Linked DNA regions of Homo sapiens. The protein of the gene in region 3 interacts with the protein of the main gene of each other region in a pairwise test. Each region holds a gene or a part of one and is shown on either strand. Other genes may lie near its edges. The genes, in order: CACNA1A, AAMP and NELFCD.

What was found.
Region 1: the proteins of NELFCD (region 3) and CACNA1A interact in a two-hybrid assay, tested with the Homo sapiens proteins (one study listed by BioGRID and IntAct).
Region 2: the proteins of NELFCD (region 3) and AAMP interact in a two-hybrid assay, tested with the Homo sapiens proteins (one large-scale study listed by IntAct).

What each region holds. Positions count from the first base shown.
Region 1 is NC_000019.10:13,499,848-13,503,495, forward strand, and holds part of CACNA1A (voltage-dependent P/Q-type calcium channel subunit alpha-1A), read right to left. Parts: intron 1-3,648.
Region 2 is NC_000002.12:218,263,582-218,267,238, forward strand, and holds the end of AAMP (angio-associated migratory cell protein), read right to left. Parts: intron 3,406-3,657; coding exon 3,266-3,405; intron 3,007-3,265; coding exon 2,862-3,006; intron 2,567-2,861; coding exon 2,483-2,566; intron 2,366-2,482; coding exon 2,250-2,365; intron 2,102-2,249; coding exon 1,998-2,101; intron 1,881-1,997; coding exon 1,790-1,880; intron 1,594-1,789; coding exon 1,439-1,593; intron 1,028-1,438; coding exon 952-1,027; 3' UTR 548-951; downstream 1-547. Other genes in the region: GPBAR1 (G-protein coupled bile acid receptor 1), read left to right, coding at 1-136. UniProt on the Homo sapiens protein: Plays a role in angiogenesis and cell migration. In smooth muscle cell migration, may act through the RhoA pathway.
Region 3 is NC_000020.11:58,984,131-58,987,778, forward strand, and holds part of NELFCD (negative elongation factor C/D), read left to right. Parts: intron 1-1,962; coding exon 1,963-2,078; intron 2,079-2,623; coding exon 2,624-2,733; intron 2,734-3,577; coding exon 3,578-3,648. UniProt on the Homo sapiens protein: Essential component of the NELF complex, a complex that negatively regulates the elongation of transcription by RNA polymerase II.

The DNA.
Region 1 (3,648 bases), on a different chromosome or scaffold from region 3:
ATGCGTTACTGCACGGCTCTTAGGCTCTGATCATTTCTGGATGGAGTCCACCTTCCCGGCGGTGCTTTTTATTGCTGAGAAAGTGTATATGTGTGCTTGCTACTGGGGGGGAAACAGGGAGGGGGAAGCATAAGCCCTACGCACCCAACAGATGCCTCCCACTCCAAGTCCCTGAAGAAAGACTTCATTCTCAAGGGGCCGCTGCATCCAATCTACTCAAGCACTAACATTTCAGAAACTTTCATTGGTCTGATAATCTCATGGACAGTCTCTCAACCCCCTGCAACTAAAACCCATCAAAATCCTAAAACGTTGGCACAAGGGTAGATCAGATAGATGTTATACAATTTAGTTAATGGGTGAAGACAGGTACCTTTTCTCATTTGCTCAGCAAACGTTTATAGGACGCCTGCTTTGTCCCACACACTGGGGTTGCAGTGGTGAAGAACAGGGTAAAGATCATGGGTCTCACAGCCTCAGAGCTTGACTTTTTCCTGGGGAATGGTAGAACTACCAGGGAGGGGTGGAACCCCACCCAAGAGAACCCCTTCTTTCTCTCTCTCTAGTGCAGGCACATAGCTTTGAATGACATCCTTAATCTTTCTTATTTCTCTGACCGGGATTTAACACTATTACTTCCACTCCTTTCCATAGATCCACATCCTTAATCCTAAGCCATCGAGGCCAGACGTGCTTTGGAATTCAGAACTCAGGGCTTTTAGACGCATTGCAAAGATGGGAATGTAAAATGGTACAACCACTTAGGAAAACAGTTTGAGAGCCTCTTATAAAATTAAACATACACCTACCACACAACTCAGCAATCTCACTCCTGGGTTAATTTACCCAAGAGAAATGAAATGTATGAAATGAAATGTTCCCACTAAAACCCATAAGCCAATGTTTATAGCAGCTCTATTCATAATCATTGAAACTGGAAGCATCCCAATGTCCTTCGGCTGGGAAGCAAACTCTGGTCCATCCATATCATGGAATCCTGCTCAACACCAAAAAGGAAGGCGCTACTGTCACAGGCAACAGCATGAATGAATCTCAAAGTCTGAGTAAAAGAATCCACATTCAAAAGGCTATATACTGTGAAATTACATTTATATGACCTTCGGCAAAAGGCAAAGCTGTAGGGATGGAGAACAGATCAGTGGTTGAAGGGGCTGGAGAAGTGGGGTGCTGACTCAAGAGGGGCACTGTGGGGGTATTTTAGGGTTGATGAAACTGTCCCATATCTTGATTTGGGTGGTGGCCACAACTACATCCATTTGTCAAAGCTTGCAGACCAGTATGTCAAAAGGGTGAATTTTGCTACAAATAAATTATACATCAATAAATCTATTTTTTTTTTGAGACAGAGTCTCAAAAAAAAGTACAGTGGTGCAATCTCGGCTCACTGCAACCTCTGCCTCCCAGGTTCAAATGATTCTCCTGCCAGCCTCCCGAGTAGCTGGGATTATAGACGCACAATACCACGCCTGGCTAATTTTTGTATTTTTAGTAGAGACGGGGTTTCACCATGTTGGCCAGGCTGGTCTCGAACTCCTGACCTCATGATCCACCGGCCTCAGCCTCCCAAAGTGCTGGGATTATAGGCGTGAACCACCAGACCCGGCCCCTATAAACCTGATTTTTAAGGAAAAGAAAAATGATAACAAGATGTCTCTATGATCTAACCTGGATACTCCAACCCTAGCCCATGAACTTACCACATGGGGAATCCCTAGAAGCTAGCTAGAAAAGCAGAATCCCAGACCCCACCCAAATCCTGCTGGACCAGAACCATCCTGTTAACAAGACAACTTCCATACACCTGAAAGTTTGACAGGACTACAATGCAGACCTAACAGTCAGGAGCTGAAGCAGCACCTCATCATCAAGCACATCTAACATTTCTGCTGCAAAACATACTCAAATGCACACCAAGTAGAATGAATGAAAACTGTAAATTAAGACTTCAAACTGAAGTCAGTTCAGGTTAGGTTTTACCTCTATATGAGCTCGTCTTTTGGTTTTTGGAGCTTTTTGGATTGGGGAATTGTGGATAAGAAATTGCACCCTTTTTGAAAATACTCCCATTGGAAAAGCCGTGCTAAATTTTACTTCGCAGAATTTTGCTCCTCTGGAAATACCAGCCAAGCCGGTCTAGTACAAGGATCACGTAAGTGACACCATCCTGCCCTCTACGGCAGTACCTTCTAGAACATTCTATCTCTCAGGACAGGCCAAGAGTCTGATAACCTGCTCCCATGTCTCCCAGCGCTTCTCATGCAGAAAGTTTCTCTTTAGAGAGCTTTTCTTAAAAAAAAAAAAAAAAAAAAAAATGAGAGGAGTGCCAATCAGCCAATGTCCACAGATGTCAAAGTGATGTCACCTGATGTCAATGTGACTTTAGGTGTCTTGTTAAGATTTCTGCAAACCGGATGAAAAGCTGGAATTCTACGTGTAATTCAGGCAACTGTGCGTGATAATACACTGACCTGCTTCCAGTGTTCCTCCGATGGCCTGAGTTTCTACATCATGTTCAGTGGGAGACCTGGTGGCACAGGGAGGGCTGGAAAGATGACATTCACCTTGGCACTTGGTAGAAGGAGTGAGTGGCATTAAGTGGGGAGGGAACTCTAGGAAGGCTGACAGATGCTCCTTTTTGAGCTGACAGATCTGAGCTCTTCGGCAATCATCAGAGACCCTCATGGCCCTATTTGAATCACAATTCCAGTCAATGAAAACATGAAACCAAGGTGTGTGGTCAAGACGGCTTGCTGCCTGGCATGAGAAAAACACGGCAATGTAAATTTGAACATCAAAGACTTCCATTTGGGTTTCCTCACTTAGGAAGAGGGGAAAAAATGAAATAAATGAGGATTCTTAATTGTCATTGATGGCTTCAAGTTTGACCCACTGAGGGATGAAAGAGGAAGAAATCATAGTGACAAATTGCCCCGAGTGTGGAGAAAGCAAGACTGCATCCTTCACCAGTGTACCATGCCAGAATTTACATTTGGAAGTAGCACTCTTAGGCCCTGTGAGCATACCGACAAGTTCATGGATCATTCACTCACTTCTCTTAAACAAGACAGGGAGGAACCTGCTTTCCATATCGACCTGCAACCCTTAGTCAACACCATTTCCAAATACACATCCCACAACACATGCATCAAAAAGTAGCAGGGGCGATTCCACTCCTATCTAAGAGAACTGTGGGAAAAAAATAATAGAAGACACAAGAATGTTCCCAGTGGCACAAACAGAAATGACACAAATGCCCATCAACAGTAGAATGGATAGATTGTAGTAGAGTCACATACACAGATGTGAGCAAAAGAAGCCAGTGGCAAAAGAACGTACTGTGTGACTCCATTTACATGTTTAAAAGAGGCAAAATGAACCTTAGAAGTCAGGTGAGCGGTACCCTTGTTGGGGGAGCAACTAGGAGGCGGTATGGGGAGGGGGACTTCCAGGGCACTGATCGGGACCTGGGTGCTGGATACGTGGGTGTGTTCATTTTGTAAAAATCTATGCATCTGAATATATGTACTTGCCTGTACATATATTAGACTTTATTTAAGTACCTACACACTTTTTTTTTCACTCTCAGGATATGCTGAAACATTTTTTTTTAATGGCAGAAATATTTAG
Region 2 (3,657 bases), on a different chromosome or scaffold from region 3:
CTACACAGCCCCCTGGAGGGCAGCCGCCCAAAGGTGCCTGCAGGGGCTGTGGGGAAGAGCCTCCCGGGACAGTCCCGGCCCCAGCATTGCCTACCACCCAAGCAGCCAAAGCAGTGTCGACCTGGACTTGAACTAAAGGAAGGGCCTCTGCTGACTCCTACCAGAGCATCCGTCCAGCTCAGCCATCCAGCCTGTCTCTACCGGGCCCCACTTCTCTGGATCAGAGACCCTGCCTCTGTTTGACCCCGCACTGACTGAATAAAGCTCCTCTGGCCGTTTATGATTATCTCATTCCATATCTCAGGGCGAGGCAGGAGGAAATGGCTCAACACACCAACAATAGAAAGAACCTACAGACATACGCGTGGATTAAGGCAGAGTCCGACTCCAGGCAGGCAAGAAGTGTCGTGCGCACAGACCACCCCTGGAGATGGGGAGCTGGCACATCTCAACATCCAGCCGATTCTGCGGGACAGCCTTGCCCTGACGGGGCCCTCGCTAGCTCCTCCTAGGGTCCAGCCATCACAAAATCCACACAGACTCTGTCTCTGGGAAGTATATTTTATTTACATTTTTAAAATCTTTAACTAGTATCTCTTCCTCCTTTCCACCCCCAGAGACTTGGGAAGGGAAAGAACGGGAACCTCAAACACCTACTCCCCACATACAAATACACACCCCATGGCTCACACCAGCAAATGAAAGTGAAAGAGAAACAGGTCCACCCCTCCCTCTGAAGGGCCCACCAGGTCTGGACAAGGGTGGGAGGGCCCTGGGCTGGGTCTCTAAAGAGAAGAAAAGGAGAGGGGAGCAAGTCAGTTGAAGAGGCTGGAAAGTCATCCAGGGCCCCACCCTCCTCTTCCCTCTGTGCCCTACTGCCTCTGCTGGCAGACAGGGGCAGGGGTCCCTTCGTCCCCTCAACACCAGACACACAGGCAGGGGCTGCAGCCATTAACGGTCAGGCCTTTGGACACAAAATACTTTCGCTTTGTGGTCTCCTGACGTGGTCACCACCAGGGAGGCATCTCTGTAAACAGAAAGCATGTGATTGCAGAGACTGGGGGACCCAAGCCCACCACCTAGGGGCCCTAGGGTGGGCTCCTCCAGCACACCCTCAGTTCTAGGGCCCTAGTGCCTAGCACTGGGCCGACATCTCTGCAGCCAGCATGGAGGGGATTAGAGGAAGCCCCCAGCACGGGAGAAGCAGAGCTGACTCCGATGGGGAAAATCAGTCTCAGCCTCTCCCTCATGACTGAGACGTGGGGCCCCGGAGGGTCACTGTCAGCCACTGGAATGGGGGCTGGGCTGTGAACCCTCAGGCTTCTCTGCATTCCTGCCTTAGGAATCCCTTCCCACACCCCAAGGATCCTGTGTCCCCTACATACTACTGCCACCTTCCAAATACACAAAGATCCCAGCCCTTGGCCAATTCACTTACTTGCTGAGGGCAAAGTCCAGGATCTCAGCCGTGTGGCCCCGGTAGTCAGTAAGCAGGCGGCCGGTCCGGGCGTCCCAGAGGCGCACGATGCCATCCAGGCTGCAGGTATATACCACGGCAGTGCCTGCCTCCCACAGCAGCTGCACGATGCCCGACTGCCCCGAGGAATGACAGAGGCAGGGCGGAGGTTGGCAGGAGAGCTGAGAGCCATCTGCTCCCAATTCTCAAAGAGGGACAGCCACACACAAGGGCCAGGCAGGAGCCAGATCTGGGGTAGATGCTCCTGGAGGCCTGGGCTTCCCCACCACTATGGACACAGCCCACAGGGACCCCAGCTCCAGCTGCCCATACCTGGTGCTGACACTGATGCCTAAGAGTCTGCGTAGCCAGGTCATAGATGGCCAAGGTCCCATCCAGGTAGCCAACAGCTGCCAGGGGCATCCTGGCCAGAGGAGCGTACCATGAAGACTCATGAGGGCCTGGACTCACACGCCCTGCCGTCCTCCCGGGCCCCCAGCCCAGGCCCCTCCCACAAACCCCTTTCCCCATCCTCACTCACACACTGCAGAAGCCCAAGGACTCCACCGAGTTGGACTCACTCTCCTCCCCTTCTCCCAGGCTGGGCTGGGAGGCCACAGTCTCAGGTCTAAAAACACCCACCACCTGAAAGCCAGAGAGGATCAGAGGAGGACACGGAATCCGGGTGCTTGATGGAGAGAAAGACGGTGGGGAGAGGAGACAGTGAAGACCCAGGAAGGAAGGAGAGGAGTCGGGAAAGCGGAGGCCCCAGCCGGGCTCCAGGTCCACTCACCTTGCCGGTGGTGGCACTGACCAGCTTGGCCTGGCAGTCCACAGAGCCAGTTAGGATCAAGCTGCCATCCTGGTTGGCAGCAACACAGGTGAGTGGGCCCTGGTGACCCTCAGTCCCTAGCATAGAGCAGGGAGGCAGCTCAGGCTTCGTCCTACCTCCCCTCTGAGTCCTGCCCCAGGTTCTCAGCCCCTCCCTACAAAGGCCCAGGCTAACACTTCCCCCACCTCTGATACCTTTCAGTACATGGATAGGGCTTCCCTGCTTCAGGTCCCAAATCCTGATGGTCCCATCTTCATAGCCTACCACAGCTCTCTTCCCTGAAGAGAGGCACAGATGAAGAGAGGGCAGAGGGCACGCTCACATACACTAAGCAAGGGAATGGGGAGAGGGAGAGGAAAGAAGAGTGGAAGGGCCCAGACACTGCCCCAGGAATCACAGGTGAGTTCAGAGCAGGAAGGAGGCGCTGTGAACTTTGGGGCCCAGGAGGTCAGCACTGCAAACAGCAGGCCTCAGATTTTGCCGGCTGTGACCCAGAAGGCTGCTCTGGGAGGTGTATATCCCGGGATTCGGCCTCTGCACCCAGGAAAGGTCACTCAAGGGAGGTGCTCTCACCATCAGGGAGGACTCGGCCACAGGTGGCTGGGCAGTTGGGACCCTGGAAGGTCTTGCAGTCACCATTCGGGACTTTCCACATCCAGGTGTTGCCGTCAGCTGTGCCCGCCAACAGGACAGGTGCCCGAGGATGCCACTCCATCCACTGGACAGGGAGGAAGGGGCAGCAGGGAGGCCCGTCACCCCATCCCACCTAGAAGCCTGCCCCATGAGCTCCACCCAAGGTTTCCTGCCTCTGGGGTTCCGCGGGGACTTTCCAGGTAGCAGGTAGATATTCTTCCTGTGCCTTGGGGCGCATTGGCTCAGAGCTGGCTTGGCGCAATAAAGGCAGAACTGGCCTCCCAAGCTTGCACCCCCAACAACCCAAGGCCCCACAGAGCTGACTCCCGCTCTGATGATCTTACCTCCAGGTCTCCCGCTTCAAAGGACCAGACCTCCTCCTTAGTGTCCACCTGCCACACTTTCAAGAGGCCACTCATGTCCCCTGTGGCCACTAGAGTGGAGTCATGGCTGAAACCAGCACAAGTCACAGAGTCTTTATGGCCTTCAAAGAAAAGTGGGCAGAAAACAGAGGAAAAAAATAGGGTACCTGGTGCTGGGGGCATGTGATTCTGGTATCTGGCCCACTGAAAGGACCAGCTAGGAAAAAAAGAGGGGCGGGACTGAGCAGAACAGGTGCTGGAACTCACCACCACTCTAGGAACCAATACTCCCATGTCTGCTGGGAGACACTGCTGGCCCTCACTCAACCAGACCAAGTCCCAGCCTCCTATGCCTTCCCCCTTCTGTCCACTCT
Region 3 (3,648 bases):
CGTGATGTTCAGTCTGGATGGTGGAAACTAAGAGCTGCAGACATGCAAATAGATGAGTCCTGCTACAGATTGCAAATGGGGAGTGGTGAGAGGTCAGAACGGACAGGGGAAGTGGGAAGGGCACGCTCTTGCTAGAGCTGGGGCGTTTTTTCCTGAAGGAGATGGGAATCTTTAAGCAGGAGAGAGACGTCAGTTTTGTGGCTTACAAAGATCACTGTGGCCACGGTGTGAAAGATGATTGAAAGGAAGGAATAAGACTGAGACTTCAGGGGAATGTTGCTACTGCAAGCATACAAAAAATAAGGAAGAGCAGAGGCAAATGTGGAAAGAAGGACCACCTTGGATAGACAGATGGGAGATGGAACTGATGAGTCTTTGTGACAGGATGTGGGGGTGGGGTGAGGGAGAGAAGCTGAGGATGATTTTCAGGTTTGGGGGGTAACAAGTAGATATATGAAGGATACCTTTACGGAAATATGGGTTGTAGGAAGAAGATCTGTTTCTAGGGAAGAGATGTCAGTTTTGGACCTAAAGAGTTTGGATACTTGTGAGACATCTGACTGGAAATGAGAATGGAATGTTGGATACCTGAGTCTGGAGCTTAAGAGAGGAAAGACGGAGAGAGAGATCCAGGCTAATTCTAGATTGGTGAGCAGGTAGATAGCATGACCCAAGAGGTGGTGGAAGAGGCAGGTAGGTGAGTGCCCAGGGTGGAAGCCCAAGAGAACAGACAACGTGGGAATGAAGCTCGGGGTGAAGTCCGGCCTCTGTCATGCCCTTAGGGGCTCAGCGTTCCCCATGCAAATCTGGTCTGAGAGAAGACTCCACAGCTTTTACTGGGAAGTCATCGGGTTCTGTCTGCTCCCAAAGCACTGCTTTTAGGATCTTAGTCCAGATCAGGAGTGAGCAAACTTTTCTGAAAAAGGCTAGATAGCAAATATTTTAGGTTGTGCCTGTCTCTGTCTTAACTACTTACCTCTGCCCTTACAGGGGGAAAGCAATCATAGACAGTCCTTAAAAGAATGGGTGTGCTGTGTTCCGTAAAAGTTTATTTGCAAAAATAGGAGAGGGCTGGATTCGGCTCTGGGTCATAGTTTGCTGACCCCTGGCCCAGCTCTTGCCCCATTATGTTAGAGTAGGTTGCATGGAGGTCTGTCTCTCCTATTAGTTTGTGAACTTCTTTGATGGAAAAAGCCTTGTCTTGTCTTACATTTTCTTAGGTTCCTTGGTTGATGAGCATAGTGCAGACTGAATGTTCAAAAAGCATCTGCTTGTTAGTTAGGGTGGCAGTGTTAAAGTTGGACAGGGTTTGGGATCACAGTCCATCCTCACATGGTCATTAGCAGGTGAAGAAGCCTGCTTTGCCCTTAGATGGAGTGACAGGCCTGAAGTTGCTTCCACATAGAATTGGGACTGGAGTCCAGCCAGAAGTGTGGATGCAAGGCGAGTTAGTGGTCTTTACTTTCTAATGGTAAGTGATGGCTCACGCTTTCAAGAATCAGGTTGTTACTCTTCAGTGGCATGTATGAAATAAGAATAGTGAAAACAATAATAATAATAGTTTACTATTTATTGCACTGTTACGAAATGTCAGGGATTATGCTGGGTTCTTCCAAAAATTAGCTCATGGAATCCTCACAACAGCCAAATGGGAATAGGCGTTATTATTATCTTCACTTAACAGAGGAGGAAATGGACACTCAGAGAGGTTGGGTAACTTGTGTGAGCATGGAACGCGGTTTGCCAGGGAGGAGTTGTACACACCCACTCAGTGTGATCCTGGATCCCATTTTCCTAGCCACTCACTATCTGTCCAGCCCATTTCATGAAATTGTCATGAAAGTCAAATGAAATAATGTGTGTAGAATACTTTCAAAATGGGCAGCATTATACGATTTAAGGTGAGATTAGGGTATTTGTATTAATGAAAAAAATATCCTGGCTCTTCGCATTTACCAACAGCAGGAGGATGATTCTGGAGAAGGAGAGGATGATGCGGAGGTTCAGCAAGAATGCCTGCATAAATTTTCCACCCGGGATTATATCATGGAACCCTCCATCTTCAACACTCTGAAGAGGTATGTGAGAAAGGTGTCTGTATTGGGAGGAGGCTGGGGGTAATTTAGAGAAAGTTTTGTAATACACCCAGAAGGTGCTATGTAAAGCAAGAGTAACGCGAACTGAACTAAAGGCTTCAAGGGGGGGTCCCCTCTGCCACTTTTTTTTTTTTTTTAAATTTTTTTAAGACAGAGTCTTGCTCTGTTGCAGTGGCACAATCACCGCTCACTGCAGCTTCAGCCTCCTGGAATCAAGCAGTTCTCCCACCTCAGCCTTGCAAGGTGGCCACCACAGGCGTCTGCCATCATGCCTGGCTATTTTTGTTTTTGTTTTTTGGGAGAGACAGGGCTCCTTACGTTGCCCTGGCTGCTCTTGAACTCCTAGGCTCAAGTGATTCTCCCACCTCTGCCTCCCAAAGTGCTGGGATTACAGGTGTGCACCACTGCACCCAGCCCCCTCCGCTGCTTTAAAAATTTTGAAACCTGATTCTCTTCCTCCTTCCTTACCTTCCTGTTGTCCATCATTCCATTCATTCGGGTGTAATTGCTGTTGTTACTTTCCCTAGGTATTTTCAGGCAGGAGGGTCTCCAGAGAATGTTATCCAGCTCTTATCTGAAAACTACACCGCTGTGGCCCAGACTGTGAACCTGCTGGCCGAGTGGCTCATTCAGACAGGTGCTTTGTGGGTGTCCCCTGTCCTGGCTAGTTACCCCCACTTTTTTAAAAATAGACTTTTGGGTCCTTATAACACTGATACAATGCCTTCTTTGATTTCCTGGTTTCTGAGACTTGTGTAAGAAAGAGCTGAACTTCTTACTCATTTTTATCTTTATCTTACTCATTTGTATCTGCTTGCCTCTTATCTTTGATTCAGTAATTGAGGTTTACTGGTAGCCTGCAAACGTGATTCTCATTGAGCTGTTTTCCCTACCATGTTGTAGAATTATAGGATTATACAGTGTGTGTTCAGTGTGTCATTTTCAAGACGTCTATTACAGCAAGCAGTAAATGACGGATAATTTAGGACTGGCTGTGATTATGGCTTTTAGTTAATATGATCAAAGTAGAGTCTTACTGTAAATCCACGGAGCCGGGTGCAGATGACATCACTGAAGTGCGTGCTGTCCGGAAGCTTGTGGACACACTGCTGTCCCGGTGATTAGATACAAGTGTGTCTCTTTTGGCTGCCATCTGCTCCCTCCTCACTGGGCAGGGATGTTTTTCCATCCCCCTACCTGTTGCTGGGGCCATTTGTCTTTATCCTCAGTGAGGCTCTGCAGATGGTGCTGTCCTTTCCATGAAGTTAGGGGTGGACCAGACTTGTGTGTTCTGTTCTGTGCTGCTTTTTGGTCTTATCATTGATAACTACTTTGAAGAGTTCCAAAACCTTACATGTATAAGTGGTCAGAAGCAATTCTTTGGTATTTGATTCACATAGAGACTTTTGACCATTTGCTTTCTAAAGCCACACAGTGAATGGACAGCTTGCCATTGTCTAGTTGCTTTTATTCTCTTTCAGGTGTTGAGCCAGTGCAGGTTCAGGAAACTGTGGAAAATCACTTGAAGAGTTTGCTGATCAAACATTTTGAC